Linked DNA regions of Homo sapiens: all the other regions are linked to region 2. The links come from fine-mapping of genetic effects on gene expression. A gene starts in region 2. Each other region holds a variant in brackets. All regions are shown on one strand. Distances are from middle to middle.

Region 1 (7,184 bases), 28 kb after region 2:
AAAACAAAGGAAGTATGTATCACGGTGATCTGGGTGAAGAGAGTAGGGAGTAGTCATAAAACATTTATTGAAGAGCTTACAACTGGAAATGCCTATTTTAGAATGGTGTTTTAAGTGCAGACACTGGCTGCCCAAGTGTCTTGTGCCTCTGGACGCTAACTTCCTAGGCGGGAGAAACTGGGGTCTCCCTGGGGAAGGGGGCACATGAACTCTCGAGGGCGAAGGCCAGAGTGCACCTGCTTATGACCTTCGAAGTGTAGAGAGGTTGGCAAAGCCGCAGTTATTGAATTAATGGAAGCAACTTGTAACTCAAGATGCACGATTTTAAAAATGATTCAGTAAAGACTGACTTGTAATCGGGGCGATGCTTCTCTGCTGTGTCAGGCTGGGCTGCGGCCTTCTTGACTACCGGGAGCAGGCTCAGCAGATAGAATTGAAGACCGGAGGGATGAGTGCTTCTCCCCACGTGCTCCCCGACGACTCACACATGGACACCTACGAGCAGGTAGCCTGGTACCGTCAGACGACTGCTGCGGTGGGAAGCTTTTCTCCAGTGTCTGTCACTGTTCGATTCGGCCCTAATTCCTTTCTTCTGTGTTTTCTTTGGTTCAGGGTGTGCTTTTCTCCTCTCTCTGCCTGGATCGAAACCTGCCAGACATGATGCAGCTATGGAGTGAAATATTTAACAAGTAACTTTATTTGCAAGAGTTGTCCATTCTTGGGGTGTACTAGAGATCTTTGTTTGAAGTACTTTAAAGGAGACAGTTTTACTCGTGTGTGTTGTTGTTTTCCAAGTCTGACTTTTACTTGTAGTTCATATGGACTTATAAAATTTCTTTGGTTGTTAAAGTACTCTGAAAACTTAATCAACTTTCCATGATACTGAAGGGACGTGAGGAATGGGTCTCCAGGAATTTTTTCTTCTCCTTTTTCCATAGCCCGTGCTTTGAAGAAGAGGAGCACTTCAAGGTGCTGGTGAAGATGACCGCCCAGGAGCTCGCCAATGGAATTCCTGACTCTGGGCACCTGTACGCATCCATCAGGGCAGGCCGGACCCTCACGCCCGCAGGGGACCTGCAGGAGACCTTCAGCGGGATGGATCAGGTGGGAAGCTTGGAAGGAACCTCTATTACTCCGGTTTAGCCACATATTCCAGAGTTACTAATTTCTTTGGGAATACATTAATTTATGTCCCAGAAATGCTAACTTTCTAACTGACTAAATATGGGGAAGAATTGGTTGGTTGGTTTTGACTCATCTTCCTCTTTGTACCACCCTGCATCCCAGTTCCAGCCCTGCCCAAGCCGTGCACTCGCACACATAACCCCTGCCCAAGCAGGGTTCTGATGTCACAGGTGCTTGGTTCAGACTCAGCGGGTCTGTTGTAGCCTCTGCCTCTCTCTGAGCGAGTTTCCTCTGGCTTAGGTGCGGCTGATGAAGAGGATTGCAGAAATGACAGATATCAAACCCATCCTGAGGAAGCTCCCGCGTATCAAGAAACACTTGTTAAATGGTGATAATATGAGGTGCATGTGTGATTTGTTTCTAAATATTTTATGATTCATTCTATTAAGTATAGTTTTTAGGTATTTCTTACTTGTAGAAACTTCAAGATAGAGTGCTTGGTAAAGGTTATAGAATTTATTGTAAATGTCAAGTGTTCTAACAAACTAAGAAAATATTTTAAGCCTATTAAAAGTTGTAGGAGATGGGGAAGAAAGCAGGCTAATTTTGTGCTAGAAGTGCAAATAGATTGAGGGCAAGTAGTTATATTGCTTCCAAAAGCACATGGTCCGTAACTGAGGTATCTGTAAAGGTGAGCTTGCTGAAGACCAGAGTAAAAGTGCAGTTTCTTATAAAATTATGTGATGCTTTGAGGAAACATCTGGCAGCTCAGTCCTATACCTTCAGTTGGCCTTATGCCCTCAGATGTGTGAGCATGAATAAAGTTTAAAAATGATTGTTTATTTTCAGCATCTTATTGTCAGTGACATTGATGTATTCATCAGTACTTAACAAGAAAATGTTTGCTGAAGTCACTTGTCCTTCTTCACACAGAGTCCTGATGCCTTTCCCCAGTCATGTCCTGAGAATCCCTGGCAGATTCTACAGGGCGGTCTGTGGGTGGCCAGAGGTGAAGCCTGGCGATCAGGGTCTCTTGGCATTGGGCTCAGGCAGGCCTGGCTTCTGGTGCCGCCGGGTCAGCACTCACACTCGCTCCCAGGCGGTCCTGGGCAGCTGACCCACTTGCGTCTTCTGCTTCCTCCTCCATAAAACCTTCCTTTGCAGGTTTATCGTAAGGAATAAAAGAAAGAATATCTGCAAGGCAGCATACATGCCTGGGATATAGTTAGTATTAATATAATGGTACCTGCTGTTACTTTAACTAGAATAAGTTCAGGATTTACAGCTGAAAGGAAAAAATATACACTCTGTCAATATACTGTAGAGTTCAAGTAGCTTTTATATGATAGTAGTATTTGCAATTCTGTGGAATTTGGAAGAGTTCTATTTTCATGTAACTTTGAGAGCATGGTATTTTTTTGCAGTTTATAATGTTCTGCTTTAACAACCAGTTCACATTTTCAAATTGATGACTTCTGGACAGTAATTTTAAAAGTTGTCAGTGTTTTGATAGTGTAATTCCGAAGGCACGGTTAGCAGATCTTAATAGTCTCTGTATTTTCTTTGCTCTTCAGAAGAACTAGAGTTTAGAGTCACAGGCTCCGCGTATGGACGGCTTCATTAGCTGCCACATTGAACTGTGCGGAAATCTCTTGATAACCTGAAGCACTGAAGAGCAGGGAGGCGGCCGTGGCATTTCCACATTTGGCTGCTGTTTAACACTCTGAACAGTATTTTCTATAAAAACAACATTATTGAGTTATACAAAATGTGATGAATTACTAAAACTGTTTTTTCTAACAGTGGTTTTATGTATACATAATTTTTCAAACAGGTGTTCAGTGAATGCGACTCCTCAGCAGATGCCTCAGACAGAAAAAGCGGTCGAAGACTTCCTTAGAAGCATCGGTCGGAGTAAAAAGGAACGGAGGCCTGTGCGCCCACACACGGTCGAGGTATGCACTGGTGGTGCTGGCGCCCGGTGAGCGCCTGGTGGGTGCCAGAGCAGCTCTCATGTTTTACACGCATTAACTCAATTCTCAGAGCAGTCCAGCATGTGGGGGTTCATATCCCCCGTACGCAGATGAAGAAACTGAGGTTCAGGAGGATTAAGTATCTTGTGCAGTGTTGGGCCAGTTAAGTGAGTTCAGACCCTGCGGTGTGGCCTTAGATCCCGCGCTCACTTCTGTGCCTTGCAGTGAGTAGTCTGATAGGAAAACAGACTTTGGCTGGAATACGCTGGCAGAGGAATGGCCCAAACCGTAGCCTGAAGGCTGTTCACTGCTGTTTCTTTGACTCATGAATCCATGGATTTGACATGGAACAGTGATGTCGGTGATAACTAACTTAGTAAATTTGATTAACTTAGAGAGTTGTAGTCTAGTTCATGGATGTCAGTAGAGAAGCCGTGCTGCTCCGTGGAGGAGGTTGACGCTCATGTCTTCTCCGTTGGTGTCTGCGTATCCCTGGTTCAATTCTGGATGTGGTCTCTCTGTTGGCCCCTGGGAGTGGAGCCTTTGGGAGGTGGCCTCCTGCTGCTCCAGGCCCCTCTGCCTGCAACCCTTTCACCTTAAATGTCCTCTTGATTTGACAGATTAATGACAAGAAAGTGCAGAAAGAAAGGTTAAAATATTTTCTTTGTACCATATAACAAGGCTACCTTTTCCTTGACTGTCTGAAAATTTATTTTAATATTTTCTTAATTTCTTTTACTCACTTTATTTCTTTTTTTAGTTTTTGTTATTTTGAGACAGGGTCTGTCTCTGGCACTCGGGCTGGAGTGCAGTGGTGCCATTACAACTAGCTGTAGCCGTGACCTCCTGGGCTCAAGTGATCCTCCAATCTCAGCCTCCCAAGTAGCTGGGGCTACAGGTGTGCACCACCATGCCCAGCTAATTTTTAAAAATTTTTTGTTGAGATGGGAGCTCACTACATTGCCCAGGCTGGTCTCAGACTCCTGGACCCAAGCAATCCTCCCACCTCAGCCTCCAAAGTGCTGGCATTATAGGCATGAGCCACTCTGCCCAGCCTATTTTTATTTTTTTTAAGCGTTTATTATTTAAAACACTTACACCTGCCCTAACACTTGTTATTAGCTGTGTGAATTTTATAAACTCTGTTACTTCTTATATATTTCAAGTGAGTTCTGGATTTTTCTCTTTTCTCTTGGAAACTTGATTTTCAGAAACCTGTGCCCAGCAGCTCTGGTGGAGATGCCCACGTTCCCCATGGCTCCCAGGTCATTAGGAAGCTGGTCATGGTAAGAACCACAGCCCATCCGGGTTGCCAGCGGGTGGGTGCTTCCCTGCATGGCTGTGTCTGCCACTGATGTTCGAATGTTCCTCCGTCCGCCTGTCTGTGGGGCTGGCGTGTCCCTAGAGTTG[C/T]GAGTTCAGTGCATCCTTTGTCACTGCCACCCTGAGCCTTTTCTCTCTCAGACAGTACTGAGTGAAGGCCCTGGTGGGGGTGTGTCCTCCTGTGCCGAGGAGGGCCCTGGTATGGGGTGCGTCTTCCCTGTGCCCAGGAAGAGGGCTACTGCTCTGGGTGGTCTCCTCCCGGGCAACTCACCCTTCTTTGAACGTAGCTCCCGAGCTGAGTCGATGCCAGTGGAGCGGTCTGACAGATCCTTTCCGCGACTCAGCCTGGTGCTGATGCTGTTTGGTTTGGTTCCTTGTGGAGTAGAGTGATTTAACACATTCCTATGATATAATATGATATGAAATATAAATATGTAACTGTGATATAAACGGCGTAGAATGAAATGTTTTTAATTGAACAGTATACGTTAAGGCATCACGTCAAGATTGGAGGACTTCATGTCAGTTTTACAGTGAGAAATTGTGTGGAGTGACGGAACTGCAGTGCCTTGCTCTCGCGCCCCAGCACCTGGCTGCAGAGTGTCACGGAGATGGGACCCCTGAGATGGCTCCAGTCCCAGTGCCGTGGGCAGTGCGTGGGAGCACAGCCGCCTCTGACCCCTGAGTGGGTCCAGTCCCAGTGCCGTGGGCGGTGCATGGCAGCACAGCCGCCTCTGACCATACCGTGTCCCTCAGGAACCCACCTTCAAGCCCTGGCAGATGAAGACTCACTTCCTGATGCCCTTCCCGGTGAATTACGTGGGTGAATGCATCCGAACTGTCCCCTACACGGACCCAGATCATGCCAGGTAGGAGGGTGTAGGTCGGGACCTCTCAGGCCTGAGCCTTACGGAAGAGCTTGTCAAGGCTGTTCGAGTTCACAGGGCGTGTTTTAGCACAGGAAAAGTCTGTGCTGACTCTGAGTGTTGGACCTGGGGCTGTGTGAGTCTACGAGTGCTCCTCTTTAACCAGCAGTCTTTGTGAACAGAGACCCAGTTTTAGAGCCAGTCATTTTTGTAAACAATTTCTATTATTGAGGAGTCCTATGAACAATACAGATACCTATGACCTTAAACACAGACTGCTTTCAACATGCCCCATGTACTCACCTCATCTCTAGGTAAAAATCGAATGAATTTAGGCTGAGATTTCTGATAAACATGGTAGGTTAAGCCTTCATGAGGACAGATGCGTGAATGACAGCAAAGGCAGATCAAGACACGAAGCTACAAGGGAAAGAGTGGGAGGTGACCCGGAGAGCCATGGGGGCTGCAGGAGAACCTCGTGAGCCAGACTCTGGGTGGGTGGGGGGTGCCTGACCTGGGGCCACAGAGGGACAGGGCAGTGGGGAGAAACCAGGTGGTCCTGCAGAGCCCTGCAGATGGCAGGGCTGGAGGCCGCCTCACAGTCCCTCTAAGGAGTTTGTCTCCCCTGTCTCCCCACCAAGTCAGAAGCTCAGGGAAGGAGGCCCTGGGTTGAGCAGCCGAAGCCACAGCCAAGAGTCAGGGTCAGGCCTGTTCCCAAAGTGGCGTGGGGCGAGGGAGTTTGCAGCCTACAGACTGGCCCTCCAGCCCCTTCTTCCGAACTCTGGCTGCCCCTTGGCTGTGTTCATCCCATCTGGGGAAACTGGCCAGACCAGGACAGACTCACAGACGTGCACCTTTGGGGACCCGTCAGTTGGGTGTGTATGACACAGATATGTGCAAACATGTTATATCCCGGAAATTCACTTCCTGTGTCCTTGTCCCAGGCAGCTACCCCCATGAGGGACTAAACCAAGGAGTGAGCCTGGTAGAGAGGGGGAAGGCAGGCTTAGGCCTGGGCAGCCTGTCCTGATTGGAGAAGGAGCCGGGCCTCCGAGGTGCACGTGTGTCACAGAGGGTCACAGATGGGGAGGTGTGTAGGAGGCAGGCGGGAAGAAACGTGGGGCTGCAGTGGGGGCCCAGAAAGAGCTGGCTGTAGAAGTATGTGGTCAGCTGTTTTGTTCATTTATTTCCATATTTGTAGAAGATGAACAGATCTGTCTGCTATGCCGGCAGAAGAGTGGTGTCTGTTTCCACTATCCAACAGGAAAATGTAGACAGAAAACACTAAAAATGTGGAGGTTCCCCCTGGGCAGTGGGATTCCAGATCTTTTTTTCCTTGTGTTTTGTATTTTATAATCTTTCAAAAGTGAGCATGTTTTTAATATACAAGTAATAGAAATTTCTCAGGAAGGATAATGTGTGGACGGATGGAACGCCATCCCTGCCGGTGCTGGTGGAGACTCCGTCCCCCAGGGTCTGACTCCAGCCTCGCTAGTCCCGGCTGACGGCGCCCCAGCCACCCGAGTGGCGCTGGGTTTCTCCTGGAGGACCCACACGAGATGGTCGTGACTTCTCCCACCACAGCCCCTGGGAACACGCCCACTCCTTCCTTGATTTCCCACCTGGCCTATTTGACTCCCTTCATCCACTTTAGGAAAAGGCCTGTCTGTGGAAGCGGCGACCTGGGGCTGATCTCACCACGGGCGTCTTCAAGGAGCCTGTGTCTGTGCTGCAGACCCTCCCATCATTGTCTGCCCCGCCTTCTGTCGGAGGTGGATGTGTTCTAGAATCAGCTTGAATGTGATGTTACCGTTCACAGTGGAAGGCAGAGGAAATTGGCCCTGTTCCTAGAAATGTGCTTTATCAGAGAGTGTGTGTTTTCTTAAGGGATTCTTATAAA
Region 2 (7,458 bases):
ATTAATAGTCAGTGTGCTGACATTCCATACATTTCTATAATCCTACATTTAGAGGCACTGAGCTAATCCCTTGTTTTTAATTTCCGACAATCATCACTTTTAATTTATGATGAATTCAGAAATAAAGGGTTTCCAAAAGCATGTATTATGTTCATGACATGTAACCTTGGAAAACACCATATTTGGTTAAATCACTGCATATTTTTCTTTCAGAGGTAAAAGTGCTTTGACATCTCTGTATTTGTTTGCTAAAGCCAGGGTAACAAAGTACTGCAAACTGGGTAGATTAGAAAAAAAGAAATTTGTTATGTCGCCGTTGTGGAAGTTAGAAGTCCAGGATCCAGATATCGCAGGATTGCTTTCTTCTGAGCTTGAAGGCTGAGTCTGTTCCATGCTGCATCCTGAAGTTATGGTTATTGGCTGGTGACCCTTAGCATTCCTTGGCTTGTAAAGGTTTCACCCCCAATATTTGCCTTTATCTTCACCTGGCATTTTCCGTGTGTGTGCATGTCTGTCTCTGCATCCAAATTTTCCCTTTTTATAAGGACATGAACCATCCTGGAGTTAGGCCCACCCAATGATGTCATTTTAGCTTAATTATTTCTGTAAAGACCATCTCCAAACAAAGTCACACTCTGAGATACTGGGGGTTAGGACCCCAACATATCTTTTTGAGTAGACACAATTAAACCTTTAATACTTAATATTCACTTGATTGCCCTTCTAAGTTCCAGTCACAATCTATTCTGATTTTTTTTTAAATTGCTTTCTAATTTCGCTAAAACAATGAATTTCACTATAACATAGGATATGTTTTTGTAACATAGCAAATTGCATAGACAAGTTCGGATTTTTAATTTCTGTGTTGGAGTCATTTGTGTTAATATAAACTGAGACTACCTGTAGGTGTTAACATTAGGTTGAATGCTATTCGAAATAATTATTTGTAAATGTTTGGGCATTTGTTTATCTAGGTTATCCATCAGTGACATTTGAATGCTATGGGAACACACTCTGAAGCCTTAATTATTAGACTTACACAGCATCTATTTTCAAAGAAATAAAAACACTATAACCTTCCAGTGTTTCATTTTCCTGGCCACTCACAATAGGGTTAATGATACCCAACTGTCTCCCCCAAGATCAGAGATGTTATGATGACCTATTAATATGTATGACCCATGAAAGGAAAATAATATCTCGGGAACCCAAATCAGTAAGCTAAAGGGAAAAATCAAGCTGGGAACTGTGAAACCTGCCTCCCATTTTATTTCTAAGTAAGACAGCTATAAGGATTTTAAAAAGCCACATACTTTTCTCACAATTTGTCCACAAGGAAATTCCTTGTGGACCAAGGACAGGCAGAACTCAAAGTCATCCTCCTGAGGCTCACGGGTGAGACAAACGCATATCTGATCACTTCCTCTGCCCCATTGTTTCACTGAGTCAGACTAAGGCATCAGTGACTGCTTCTCTACCCTCCTCTCAAATATAAGTTGTGTGTTCAGTGAAAGTCTAATCAGAGACTCAAAATAATGCAACCATTTCCTTCTTATCTACCTACAACCTGGAAGCCCCCACTTGGAGTTGCCCTGCCATTTCGGACCCAACCAATCTACATTTTACATATATTGGTGGATGTCTCATATCTCCCTAAAATGTATAAAAGCAAGTTGTGGCCAGGCGCGGTGGCTCACGCCTGTAATCCCAATACTTTGGGAGGCGGAGGCGGGCAAATCACGAGGTCAGGAGTTCGAGACCAGCCTGACCAATATGGTGAAACCCCGTCTCTACTAAAAATACAAAAAAAAAAAAAATTAGCTGGGCATAGTGGTGGGTGCCTGTAATCCCAGCTACTCGGGAAGCTGAAGCAGGAGACTCGCTTGAGCCCGGGAGGCTGAGGTTGCACTGAGCCAAGATTGCGCCACTGCAATCCAGCCAGGGCGACAGAGTGAGACACGGTATTAAAAAAAAAAAAAAAAAAAAGTTGTGCCACGACCATGTTGGCCACATGTCATCTGGACCTCCTGGGGCTGTGTCATGGGCATGCCCTTAACCTTGGCAAAATTAACTTTCTAAATTGATTGAGACCTAGATCGGATATTTTGTGTGCACACACCCAAATTCTCCCTAGAAGACGGGTGATGCGCAGAGCGTGTTTGTGTCTGTCGCTCCTATTATTGCCTGTGTTCTGGTTCCTTTGGGCTCTTCAATAAGGAGGTACGTGTTTACCTGCAGCCCAGAACTGGCTGCCCTATGGAGAGTTTAGGGTAGACACGTTGGGACTTTTTCCCACAGTATTACCTTCCACATTGCTTCCAAAGTTTTAGCTTGTTCAAGCCGACTGCAGCCATCTACTTACCATTTAATTTTTAATTTTTTTTTTCAGAGCCCATTAGGAGACAGAGGGAGATTTGAGCCTGTTTGTATTCGTGATACAAGGGGAAAAAAAGAGGGAGAAGGTGAAGGGAGGAAGGAAGAGAGGCTCTGAGAAACCCGGAAGGTCAGACTTGGTGCGGACTTCCTCCAAGGGCTACCCCACCCTCTCCAAGCGTGGCTAATCCCAGGGCCCCTTCTGGCCCACAGTGCAGAACCACCCACTCCTACGGGGGCCTCCTTCAGCCTCTCTGGGGGTTCCCAGAAGGGCCCTTGGGCACTTGGGCAATGTCAGGGGGCTCAGGTGCATCTTCCTAGACACGAAACGAAGAGGAAAGCGGAGGCAGCAGCGGGGGCCACAGGCTCCCATGCAGCAGCTCGGAGCTGTGCTGTGCTTCGCTGGCGGCCATCCGTGATACGTGTGACACCGTGGGGCCCTGGCCCTGGGACCTGCCATGCAGCCTTGAGATCTCATCCAAGAAGCCCCCAGACCCCAAGGTTCAGGCCTGGCGGGGCAGCAGAACGCCTTTGGAGCTCAGCTCAGCCCTACAAACAGGACCAACGCCCACACCAAGGCCAGAGAGGGCTACCAAGTTTCACCTGGCCCAGCTTCCGGCAGCCCCCAACCAGGCCACTACCCTCACCTGAACACCGCGGTCCATCACCAAGCCCCACCCACTTCTGCCAGCCCTGCCCCCACAAGGACCCACCTCTCGCATGCAAGCCCCGCCCCCAAGGCCCAGCTCACCTGCAGCCCCGCCCCACCAGGCTCCACCCCATCGCCTGCAAGCCCCATCCCCAAGGCCCAGCTCACTTGCATCCCCGCCCACTAGGCTCCACCCTGTCACCTGCAAGCCCCGCCCCCAAGGCTCAGCTCACTTGCAATCCCCTCTCCCACTGGTCTCCACTCCTCACCTGCAAAGAGCCACCCCTCGCTAAGCCCCTCCCATCACTTGCACAGCCCCACCCAACACAGCACGCCATTCCAGGAGCCCCTCTTTTCACCAGCGCAGCCCCGCCCTTCACCAGGCCCCACTTCATCTGCATACACACGCCTCTCGCCACGCCCCACTTCTCGCCTGCCCACTTCCCCCTCCTATCATCTGTCCACATCCTGCTGCTGGCCGAACCCCGCCCCTTTCGGCAAGACGGCCCCGCCCCTTTCTACCCGTACCACGCCCCTCGCCTTGCCCGCCTCCTTCGGCACGTCGGCCCCGCCCCTCCCGCCCATCTCCGTCCGCACCGCCCTCCCGCCCGTCCCAGAGCAGTGGAGGCCTACCCTTTTCACCTACAGCCTATCGCAGAGGACGTCGCTGTTCGCGTTGACCAATAGGAGTGGTAGCTGTCACGGCAAGCCCCGCCCCGCGCCCTGCGTCGGGTTAAGAGGGGGTTCCTCGCCAGCCAGGTGCTCGTCATGCGCAATGTGGCGCTGCGGCGGGCGGCAGGGCCTGTGTGTGCTGAGGCGGCTGAGCGGCGGGTGAGACGCTGCGACGGGAGGCGCTCGGCGCGCTGGTACCCGGGAGGGGAGGGTCCAGGGCAGGCCGGAGGCGTAGGGGTCCTCGTCCCTGCGCCCGGGGCTGGCAGCTCCCCAAGCTGTGGGCGTCCCGCACCCCGAGCCCTTCCTGGAGCTCCCGCATCCGAGGCTCCGAGGCCGGAGGACCTCGGAGCTCCTTCCTACTCCCAGGGGCGATGCCCCGGGCTGGGGGCCGGGCCTGCCCGCGGCGCTCCCGGCGGGGCCCTCCATTAGCGTGGGCTTTAACGGGGGTAGTAAATGGGGTCGGCATTTGCGGTTCTCGCTGACAGCTTTGCTCCTAGTTCATTTTTGTTGGGAGGCCGAGTCCTTAAGAGACCCGAGGCGCCCACAGCCCATACTTAAAGTCTCGCTGTGTTCAGAGAACTGACGCCTCCCGGAATTGAACTGTTTTGTTTTTTTAATGACTCAATTTATGGGGAAAAAAATGACGAAGCAGTTTAGTGTTCATGGTAATCCACGAGCCCGTGTTTAATATAAGGTAATAGTTCAGCGCTGCCGGCCCAGGCCGGGAGGCACGGGGCGTCCGTGGCATGAGTTCGGCCTGGCCTTACCGCTCAGGAGTTTCCTATCATGTCCTTGATAAGTAACTTCTTAAAACGCTTCTGTCCCATAATTCTGAAATTTGCTAAATCAGTAAGCAAATGTTGGTTATAGCATATCTTCATAATATTGCCAGTGACTGAATAGGTTTTTTCTTCCTGTACATATTATCTTTAAAATAAATATTTCGGTGGGATACATTAATGTAGAAAATCCCATACGACATATAATACAATTGGAGAGAATAATAATTACGTGTTTTTTAAGAGCAGGGATCTTGCTCTGTTTCCCAGGCTGGTTTGATCCCCCTCCTCAGCCTCTCGCATTGCGGGGTTACAGGTGTGAGCCATCTCATTCAGGTGAGAATAATTATTAGAAATAGGTTGGGCGCGGTGGCTCACACCTGTAATCCCAGCATGTTGGGAGGCCAAGGCGGGCAGACCACTTGAGGTCAGGAGTTCAAGACCAGCCTGGCCGACATGGTGAAACTGTCTCTACTAAAAATACAAAAATTAGCTGGGCGTAGTAGTGAGCACTTGTAGTCCCAGCCACTCAGGAGGCTGAGACAGAATTGCTTGAACCCGGGAGGTGGAGGTTGCAGTGAGTCGAGATTGCACCGCTGCACTCCAGCCTGGGCAACAGAGTGAGATCTGTCTCAAAAAAGAAAATTAGTGTCCCTGTGACCAAGTTGAAGATTCCCCTAACTGCTCGTAACTCTCTCCCTCCCTCTTAGATTATCACGGTCATAACATACAGAAATGTCCTTGCTTTTTTTTTTTTTAATATTTTACCATTTTTATGCGTTCTGACAATGTCTTGTTACCTATTTGAATAATACCTGTTTAGGATAATACTGTATCATGTGTATCTTTTGTTTCACGTTATGTGACCCATATCTTTGTTACATGCCACTGTAGGCCCTTATATTGGTAAGGTTTTTTTTTTTTTTTTTTTTTTTTTTTTTTTTTTTTTAATTGAACGATTAGTCCGCACTTTATCCATTCTCTGTCGATACACCTCCGGGTGAGTTGAGTTTGGGACTGTCAGGGTTCGTGCTGACATTTTTGTCTGTGAGTGCTGGGGCCGCAGTGTAAGGTGTGGACGATAGAGACCAAGAGGTGAATGGATTTCCAATCTTCAGCATTTTTTTCTTTTTTTTCCGACAGTCTTGCTCTGTCACCCAGGCTGGAGTGCAGTGGCGTGATCTCGGCCCACTGCAGCCTCCACTTCCCGGGTTCAAGCGATTCTCCTGCCTCAGCCTCCCAAGTATCTGGGACTACAGGCACCTGCCACCACATCAGGCTAATTTTTGGCCAGGCTGGTCTCGAACTCCTGACCTCAGGTGATCCGCCCACCCAGGCCTCCCAAAGTGCTGGGATTACAGACGTAAGCCACCACGCCCGGCCTCTTCAGCCTTTCTAAAGAATGCCAAGTGCTTTTCCAAAGTTATTCCACTTTGTACTCCCTGTAGCAGTGTATGAGAGTTCCCGGTAATATTAGGCTTTTTAAGTTTTCAGCAATTCGGTAGGCATGTAATGGGATTTAACTGTAGTGTGAATTTCTTGGTATACTGTGAAGGCTTTTGAGGATTCTGTGAAGGAAAGAAGCCCTTTTGTTTAAGAGTTGTCTCTTAAACAAGGGGAATTTAAACTGTAATTGTATTATAGTTATTTGTGAACAAGTGTAAAGAAAAGGTTTCCAACATTGAAGCTTTAGTTAAGATAAAGATCATTAAAATGGAAAGGACCTTACCAGAAATCAGTTTTCTGGAATGTGCAAGACTTTGGAAGATGCAATATTTAATTTTTCTTTAATAATCTTTATTACATGAGAGTATTTTCACTATGTGGCTGAATAATGTTAGCCAGATACTTTTCCTGCAACTCATCTAACTTAGATGACTTTTAATCTAGACATGCACACCACAGAGCGTGGCGATGGAACAGTAACCGGGCTTGTGAGAGGGCTCTGCAGTATAAACTAGGAGACAAGATCCATGGATTCACCGTAAACCAGGTATGGGTCGTCCTCGGCACCTCCTTATAAATCCACATACATTGCAGGTGCGGCTTCTGGCCTATGTACGGAGCCCTTCAGGGCGGAGACTAGCGTTTTTGTCCTTGTGTCCCAAGGCCCTGGCCCAGCTCCTGCTGTGTGGCAGCTACTCGGCTGAACAGAGCTTGTGAGTGAAATGAGCCCCAGTCCCTTCCTGGAATCCCGCAAAGCCTGGTTCTTGTGAGATTTTAGAGAGTAACACTTCCAGCTGGGTCTCTGTAATCAGACACACTAGCGTTTCTGCAGCCAAACCTGATGTTTCACTGAGCATGAGCATGAAGACTCACTGCCCTGATCTGTTTAGTCAGGTTTTGCCATCAAATAGCTTGCTCTAAACGTCCGCAGAACCTTTCAGTTTTCTGAGCCATTCGGGTTTCAGAATGATAAAGAAGCAATTGTGGACCTGTACTTACTTGGGTCTGTATTAAAATAGATTCATTTGGTTTTTGTTTTGTTATTTTGCCTAAACCTTTTGCATTGTTTCTATTTAGCATGGTAACTGAAAATGACACGCTTCATGTATTTGGCCAGCTGTTGGCTTTGTGCTATGCTTGATGTTATAGCAAACGTGAAAGACAAACAGCTTACTGTCTAGAAAGACTGCTGCGGCTGTGACCGGAGGCACATGGTGGACGCCACGCGGAGGGCCAAGGACAAGGGCAGGAGGAGGAGTGGGAGCTGCTGCTGCTGGGGGCAGAGGGAAGAGCTCCTGGAGAGGGTGGTGTGAGAACGTGGCTGCCTTCGGTCAGGGCTCCAGCAAGGGAGCCAGGGCAGTGACTAGGGTGCGCCAGACAAGGTCCAGGCATGGGACTCATGAAAAGACTTGGAGCGTTTGTGAAATCCTGCAAAGGCCAGGCAAAGACACTTGGGTTTATGGTACAGGTTACTGTTAATAAGGGCCTCACCCACAGCGGTAGATTCTCCTCCTTTATTTCTCAAATTTTATAGAAACG
Region 3 (7,232 bases), 37 kb after region 2:
GATTTTCTATGGCTTTGCTGCCTAAGAGAACATGTATTCCAACAGTTTTTAAGAAGGAGCCAGCCGGCCGCAGTGGCAAGTGCCTGTGGTCCTAGCTACAGGAGGCTAAGGCGGGAGGATCCCTTGAGCCTGGGGAGGTTGAAACTGCAGTGAGCAGATTGCGCCACTGCACACCAGCCTGGGCGACAGTGAGACCCTGTCCCGTGGATGCATAGCTAGATTAGGTAGGTAGGCAGGCATGTAGGTAGATACGTAGGTAGCCATTGCCACTCTGATGAGTTCTCCCCCTTGCTGTGCTGGAAGCCATGCTTCTAGACAAGGATGGGGAAGCAGCTCACAGCCGCCCCTCTGCAGCTCAGGGTGAAGGGAGGGCTGGGCTCTTTGCATTTACACGAAGGGAAGTCTGGATTGGCCCCCTCAGGCTGATTCCTGTACTACCCTGGGTGTGTCTTCAGGGAGATGAAAGGAAAACCTTTGTTTGCTTAATTTTTCCATGTAAGTCTTTGTAATTTCCCTGTAATCCTGACCTGCCCCTACCCTCCACTGACTTTCCTCTCCTGATGAGGTCACAGAGAAGTGTATTTAAATAATCTAGGGAGGACTTTGTGCAGACAGACCTTGTCTAAGAGGGAGAACATGTTGAAAGGCTTATGTGATCAGATTTAAATTTCCATTGAGAGTAATTGAGCGATTTGTCAGTGGGCTGTTTGGACTAAATCAGATATAAAATAGAGCTGTTAACCCATAGAAGATGTTGAACTGTTAAGTCGACAGAGGTTTGTCATAAACTTGTCCACTGGTAAAATGCTTGCCCGTTTATTTCTCTGGGTTTCCTAGGGACCCAAATACAATAGAGACGCTCCAGTCTTTTGGGAAGGCTGTCGACTGGGCTAAGTCTGGAAAATTCACACAGCAAGACATCGACGAAGCCAAACTTTCTGTCTTCTCAACCGTAGATGCTCCTGTCGCTCCTTCAGACAAAGGTATTTTGAGTATAACAGTGAGAATCTCAACCCACAGCCTCACAGATGACGTTGCTGTTTTCCAAGTTCCCGGCATGCATGGGCAGGAGCACTAGCTTCTGGTGCCTCCATCCTTGCTTGTGATACGATTTCCACGTCTGACACCCTAAACACGCTTCCTGACATCCGGGCGAGAAGAGTGCATCCTGTCATTTGTTTTACTGACCTGAGACCCAGTGGGGCCAACCCATGGCAGTGTCCGGGCTCTTTAGGGTGGAAGGAGGACGTGGGCACGGCCCGGGCATGGCCACGTTACTCTCTGGAGCCGCTTTTGCTCACAGCATCATCAGCCTCACGCGGCGCTGACTGCATCCCTGCTGCAGAAGCAGGCGTGGGTAGGGGTCAGCGTGGCACGTGGGAGCTGGAGGTCGGGGTGTGATCTCTGGGTTGTTAGACACATCCCTGTGGTTGAAACATGCACGTGAAATGACAGTGAGATGCCTGTGTCCCCTCCGGGACATGAGTGCACAGCCCACAACGCGAGCTCCCGGGCAGCGGCTCCATCGTGCCTGTGGATTGTCTTCTAGGAATGGACCACTTCTTGTACGGCCTCTCGGATGAGATGAAGCAGGCCCACAGAGAGCAGCTCTTTGCTGTCAGCCACGACAAGCTCCTGGCCGTGAGCGATAGGTGAGTGGGGAGCGGGGGAGACAGCGTCTGGGACTGGAAGCCCTCGTGCTGACTCTAACAGCGCTCACGCAGAAGCCAGTCCTTGCTGACCACGCCTGCCTTCCTCTCAGATACCTCGGCACTGGGAAGAGCACACACGGCCTGGCCATCCTCGGACCCGAGAACCCGAAAATTGCCAAGGACCCATCCTGGATCATCCAATGAGCAGCCGTGGCGCTCGACTGCACAGGAGCCCGAGACAATACACCTCCGAGCTGAATATGAAAAGTCAGAAATGCTACTGCTTTTTCCAAGAATATTATGTCATTGAGTGTCGCCAAAGCCCTTGACTGGCGAGTCAAAAACTCAGATCTATCTTAAGAGTGACCAGGAAGAGGTTCATTGAAATAATCATGCATGAAGCGCCAAAGATGCACCATGTAGAATTTTCACTTTGTACTGGCAGGCTCGTTTTACCTCATTCTAGAATATTTAAGAATCTAAAAATAAAGGGCAACTCTGACTTAACCTCTGCTTGAGTCATTATTTTAAGCAGCATTTAGGGCCTTTATTTAAAAACAGAAGTAAAATGAAAAGGTGCACAAGGGTGTCCCACGTCTGCCTGCGCTGATTCAGGAAACTCCATCACACCGAGGCCCTGGGGGAGTGTCCACCAGACGGGAGTTCACCGCGGCGGCTGCATGGAAAC[C/T]GTCCTGAGAAGCAAGTGGGTTGGGGTGAGTAAGCGCTTGCTTCATCGTTACAGAGCCAGAAAGGAAAGCCTCCGCGCTAGCTCTTTCTTGGCTGTCGGACTCTGATTTCCCAAACAGAGTTTGTTTTTGGCCTCTCCTCTCCCTCCACCCAGCTCTCTGCCCCCATTTCTGAGGCGCAGCTGTTCTCTCTTGCAGACTAGAGCTAAGAGGCAGAAACGCTGTCCCTACAGGAGGGGGGCCCACCAGGGCAGCAGGGCTGTCATCCCAGCAGCCGTGTCTACTCTGGCAGGAGTCTTCCGGAGAGTTCCAACCTAGGTCCCAGCGAGGACTGTGGCTTGGCCTGGAGGAGAAGCTGGCTATCAGATTTTTGAACCCACCTCCGCCCCACCCACCCCTTGGTGGTTTTAACATGCAGCTAGGATTGCAATCAAGAGGACAAGTAACTAAGATTCATGTTTTACTTTCAAAGGAGAGCAGGAGCCTGGGGTCGAGGCCCAGGGTCCCGGCCTGCTGCTGTGGATGGAAACTGACACATGGCAGATATGGAATGGTGAGTAAACGTGGCCTTCCCCTTGGCCTGTGTGAACTCCTGGCTTTGTTCTCCTTGTATGACGTGTGCATAGTTCAGTGATCCCTATAAAAATATTTTGCTAATCTTTGCCCACAAAACTGAGAAAACCTTTAGTAGCCACCCATAGATTGAGGTACTAATCTCCTACTTAAAAAACTAAAACAGAGGACTGTTGGAGTCATAGGCAAATGTTTAATTAATTCTGCTCATATGCACATCTGAAAGCATGAGACACACTCCACAGACAGCACGCACTGGAGCAGGTGGGGCAGATGGGCACTCGCCGATTAGGTATTAATGTCAATAATACGTGCATAAAGTGCTGATAAAATAACTTAAGTGTTACAAAAACAGACAGTCCACGGTGGCTGCAGGCACATGCAGGCGGGACTGGGTCAGACACTCCAGGGCTGCACATGTTCCAGCTGGCCTGAGTCCGACACGTCATAGCTGGCCTTGTACTTGGCCAGGATTTTCATGAGGGGCCGTAGCTTGAGCCACCACTGTTCTTTGGGAATCCTGTGCCTGTGGAGGTAAGAGGAGACAGCAGTGAGGCCTGCAGTCACTGGCGGGAGATGCCTCCGCCTGGCCAGCACAGCGAGCGGTCTTGCCAGAAACACAGGGTTTGTAGGGTCGGCTGAATCAACTAGATGATAAAGCCAATTTCAGGATCAAATGAAACCATTGTTTAAAATTATTCCCGAAGACCCAGTGGTGGAGTCTCGCTCTGTCGCCAGGCTTGAGTACAGTGGTGCAATCTCAGCTCACTGCAACCTCTGCCTCCCGGGTTCAAGCGATTTCTCCTGCCTCAGCCTCCTGAGTAGCTGGGACTACAGGTGTGCATCACCATGCCTGGCTCATTTTTGTATTTTTAGTAGAGATGGGGTTTCACCATATGAGCCAGGTTGGTCTCGATCTCTTGACCTTGTGATCCACCTGTCTCGGCCTCCCACAGTGCTGGGATTATAGGCATGAGCCACCGCGCCCAGCCAAGACCTAGTATTTTTTTAACTGAGCTTCAGAAAAGCCAGTTCCTCAAACCCCTGAATGAGTTGCCGACAGCAACAGCAATGGCCATTCCCCTGTCCCGTACTCACATTGGGGTCTTATTGCCTCAGGGAACCCAGCCAACTTACTCAAAATCCGTTTGCTTCTTCAGCTCTGCCACAGGTTGAAAAATAACGTTTCTTTTGCTTATTCCCAGCACACAAATGGAATCATCGGTGGTAAATTTTTTTCCTATAAAAGATTTTAAAAAAGATTAATAACACCCTGTCAACATGGGCAGGTGGGGGAGCAGAATCACGGGGCGAGATGAGAACTGAGATTCCTCAGAACCATGCTGAACCCGGCCTGGAAGCCCAGTGAGACTGAGAACAGCCGCGCAGTGGGGCCAGCACCTGGCCTCGTGCAGCTCTGCTCCTGTGGGACTGCCCCGAGGGCTTCCTGGAAAGCAGCTTTTGTTTTTTCCTCCCAGTGGAGAGAATTTTTCACTAAATAGTGGAATAGGGAAATTAGCTTAAATTACAGGACACTAATTTATGCTCACACATACACACACTGAGAGGCAAAAAGCATCCATAGCTAAATTAGCAAAAGAAAATCGCTGTAGAAAGAATCAAAGCCAAAGTCAGTTCTTCAAAAAGACAAACCCATTGAAACTATTCACATCACTGGTTTTTATAGACTGTCATTTTTCTAAGTTGGACACTGGCAGTGATAGTGGTTTGCCGGAATAAAAGCACACATCTGCTATGACTGATTAAGAAAGCTGAGGGGGGTGGGGGTGAGAAAGATGCTGGCACAAAGAGCCACTCAGGAATGAGTGGGGAACAGCCATGTTGGAGCCATTAACAAGAGTATTATAAAAAAGTCATGTTTCTTGAAACTTCAGTTTAAAGATTTCTTAGAATATGTAACTTACAGAACTGATTTAAGGAAGAACATGCACAGTTCTACGAACATGCAGTTCTACAAACATGAACAATTCATTCAGCAGTCAGATCTTCCTCAAAACTGGAAGTTTTGATGGATAGTCACAAGGAGGTTGTCCTAGCAAACATTCAAAAAATAGAAGGCCCCACTTAAACTGTGAGGGGAAATTGCTGGCCAACGTTCAGGATCTCTAGAGCAAAAAGCCTGCACAAAAGAACTGCAGACTGCATCTAGCAGTGATAAAAGAGAACATGTCATACCCAAGCTGATCTTATCCCAGGAATCCAAGGTTGGTTAAATAGCAACACTCAGAGATCAGGAGTAAAACATCACGTGCAGCTCAGTACTGAACTGAAGAAGGAACCAGCACCCTACTTCTCCCCGATAGGACAGCATTTTCACCAAGGCAGGACGGCCTGCATCACGAGGCTGTGGCCTCCCTCCCCAGACCCCTTACCTCTGCCCCGGGCCTCCTTGAGTTTTGCAGTGATCCACTCCATAGCTCTGGCAGAGATTTTGGTTCCAAAGTTTCTATCAAATGGAGAGGGTGCCCCACCCTGTTGGTGGTTAGAGTTATATGAAATACCAGTTATACAGTAACACTTTGCTGTTAAATAGAAATGACAATTTCTATTTTGCAGAATTCATGTTTTTATTTCTAGGTCCTTATAGTTGGAACAGAACAAAACCTGTGATTCCCGTAGCCTGAACTTGGCCTGTTAAGAAAAAGTATCAAGTGTTCCCCCCGCTCAGTAAGATGAGGATTTTAATAAACCGAACAAGTCAACTAACAATCTTCATTATTTTAAAATCTTAAATCAGGATTTCATGAACTCATCTGAGCTGGGGATGGGTCACAGCTTTAATCTGATAACCGTTGTGGATTCTTTAAGAAGATCACACATATGCCTACTATTTCATCATCATTGCAGGGGATTCATGGGCTCTGGCTTAAAAGTATAAGAATAGGAGGTGGTGAGGAAGGAGTGTGTGCAAGTTAGGAGGCCTGGACCCTGTGTCCCAGGCTCAGCTCATAACACGTGTGTGCCTGTGTGCAGCTCATTCCAGGTCATTCTGACTTGGGGTGTCAAGTATACTACATGTCTGATAATCCATTTTAAATCTTAGGGAAGCTCCAGTTTTTAACTTGATGAAGTGTTTAATTTGAATAAGCATTTCCAAGTAATGGGGGTATCACTGTTTTCATGAAAGCTGACAGTTCCCTTAAAATCCCCATTACTCAAACCTCACCAACAAAAGAATCCTAAAGCTGGTGATGTTTGGCATCACTTAAAAGTTCAGATGTTTTGGCTGGGCACAGTGGCTCAGGCCTGTATTCCCACCACTTTGGGAGGCTGAGGTGGGTGAATCATCTGAGGTCAGGAGTTTGAGACCAGCCTGGCCAACGTGGTGAAACCCCATCTCTACTAAAAATACAAAAATTAGCTGGGTGTGGTGGTGGGTGCCTATACTGCCATCTCCTCGGGAGGCTGATGCAGGAGAATCACTTGAACCTGGAAGGTGGAGGTTGCAGTGAGCCAAGCTTGTACCACTGCACTCCAGCCTGGGCAACAGAGCAAGACTCTGTCTCAAAAAGTTCAGATGTTTTTTATCATCTTGGAATTTACTTATACATTTTTCCCCACAATGGCTAAAATAAGACACTAATCTTTTAAAAGTCACATGACAGGGGCTTTGTGGCCCCTCATGCAGTCTCGGGCCTACCTGCTGCATGTGACCCAGCACGTTCTTCCTGCAGTCAAACACGCCTTTGCCCTCTTCTGAATACAGCTGGTAAATGAAGTCGGTGGTGTAGTTTTCACTGCAGCTCTCATTTCTGAAACGAGCGAGAAGGAGTCACTTTGTTTAGCGTGCAGTGGGCACGTGGCTCCCTGCTTGGGGAGATGGCCCTGGGAGGCTGGACTCCCGCATCCCCCAACCCTATGGTGATTCTACATCAACACCAGTCCCTCCAGTTCACGGTTTTGCTTTCTGCAGTTTGTTACCCATGGTCCAGTGGTCAACTGAGGCCCACAAATATTAAATGGAAAATTCCAGAAATAAATATGTAAGTTTTAAATTGCACACCATTCTGAGTAGCGTGATGAAATCTCGTGCTCTCTTGCTGTCCCACCCAGAACGTCAATCATCCCTGTGCCCTGCATCTCCATGCTGTCTGTGCCTCCTGCCCGAGTCACTCAGTAGCCACCTTGGTTATCAGATGGAAGCAACCTCGTGTATACAGGGGGCGGGTACTATCCCCAGGTTCAGACACCCACTGCAGTCTTGGGACACAGTCCCTGAGGCTAAGAGGGATGACTGTATTTCCTTCTTTCTTCATAAACATCAGGTGCTAATTAGGGAAATGATTGCAAGATATCAAAG

Evidence for each region.
Region 1: its variant is fine-mapped to the expression of PITRM1 in whole blood (TOPMed, PIP above 0.99).
Region 3: its variant is fine-mapped to the expression of PITRM1 in skin (TwinsUK, PIP 0.95).

Annotation. Positions count from the first base shown.
Region 1 is chr10:3,141,492-3,148,675 of GRCh38, reverse strand. PITRM1 (pitrilysin metallopeptidase 1) reads left to right here. Exons shown (of 27, transcript NM_014889.4): 17 at 385-505; 18 at 613-689; 19 at 939-1,104; 20 at 1,426-1,526; 21 at 2,960-3,080; 22 at 4,310-4,384; 23 at 5,175-5,287. PITRM1-AS1 (PITRM1 antisense RNA 1) reads right to left here and starts at 7,075. Exons shown (of 4, transcript NR_038284.1): 1 at 6,907-7,075; 2 at 5,588-5,704; 3 at 4,690-4,820; 4 at 47-3,705. RefSeq lists enhancers at 6,334-6,833, 6,834-7,184. The variant C/T (reference allele first, on the strand shown) is at 4,509.
Region 2 is chr10:3,169,112-3,176,569 of GRCh38, reverse strand. PITRM1 (pitrilysin metallopeptidase 1) reads left to right here and starts at 3,788. Exons shown (of 27, transcript NM_014889.4): 1 at 3,788-3,853; 2 at 6,364-6,466. The coding sequence starts at 3,798. RefSeq lists enhancers at 2,238-2,775, 7,123-7,172 and silencers at 2,974-3,133, 3,424-4,263.
Region 3 is chr10:3,132,655-3,139,886 of GRCh38, reverse strand. It overlaps PFKP (phosphofructokinase, platelet), which reads right to left. Exons shown (of 22, transcript NM_002627.5): 19 at 6,573-6,684; 20 at 5,305-5,404; 21 at 4,049-4,151; 22 at 3,085-3,437. The coding sequence ends at 3,308. PITRM1 (pitrilysin metallopeptidase 1) reads left to right here. Exons shown (of 27, transcript NM_014889.4): 25 at 838-983; 26 at 1,550-1,652; 27 at 1,763-2,159. The coding sequence ends at 1,856. SNORD142 (small nucleolar RNA, C/D box 142) reads right to left here and starts at 5,783; the gene lies at 5,589-5,783. RefSeq lists enhancers at 2,903-3,402, 3,403-3,904. The variant C/T (reference allele first, on the strand shown) is at 2,341.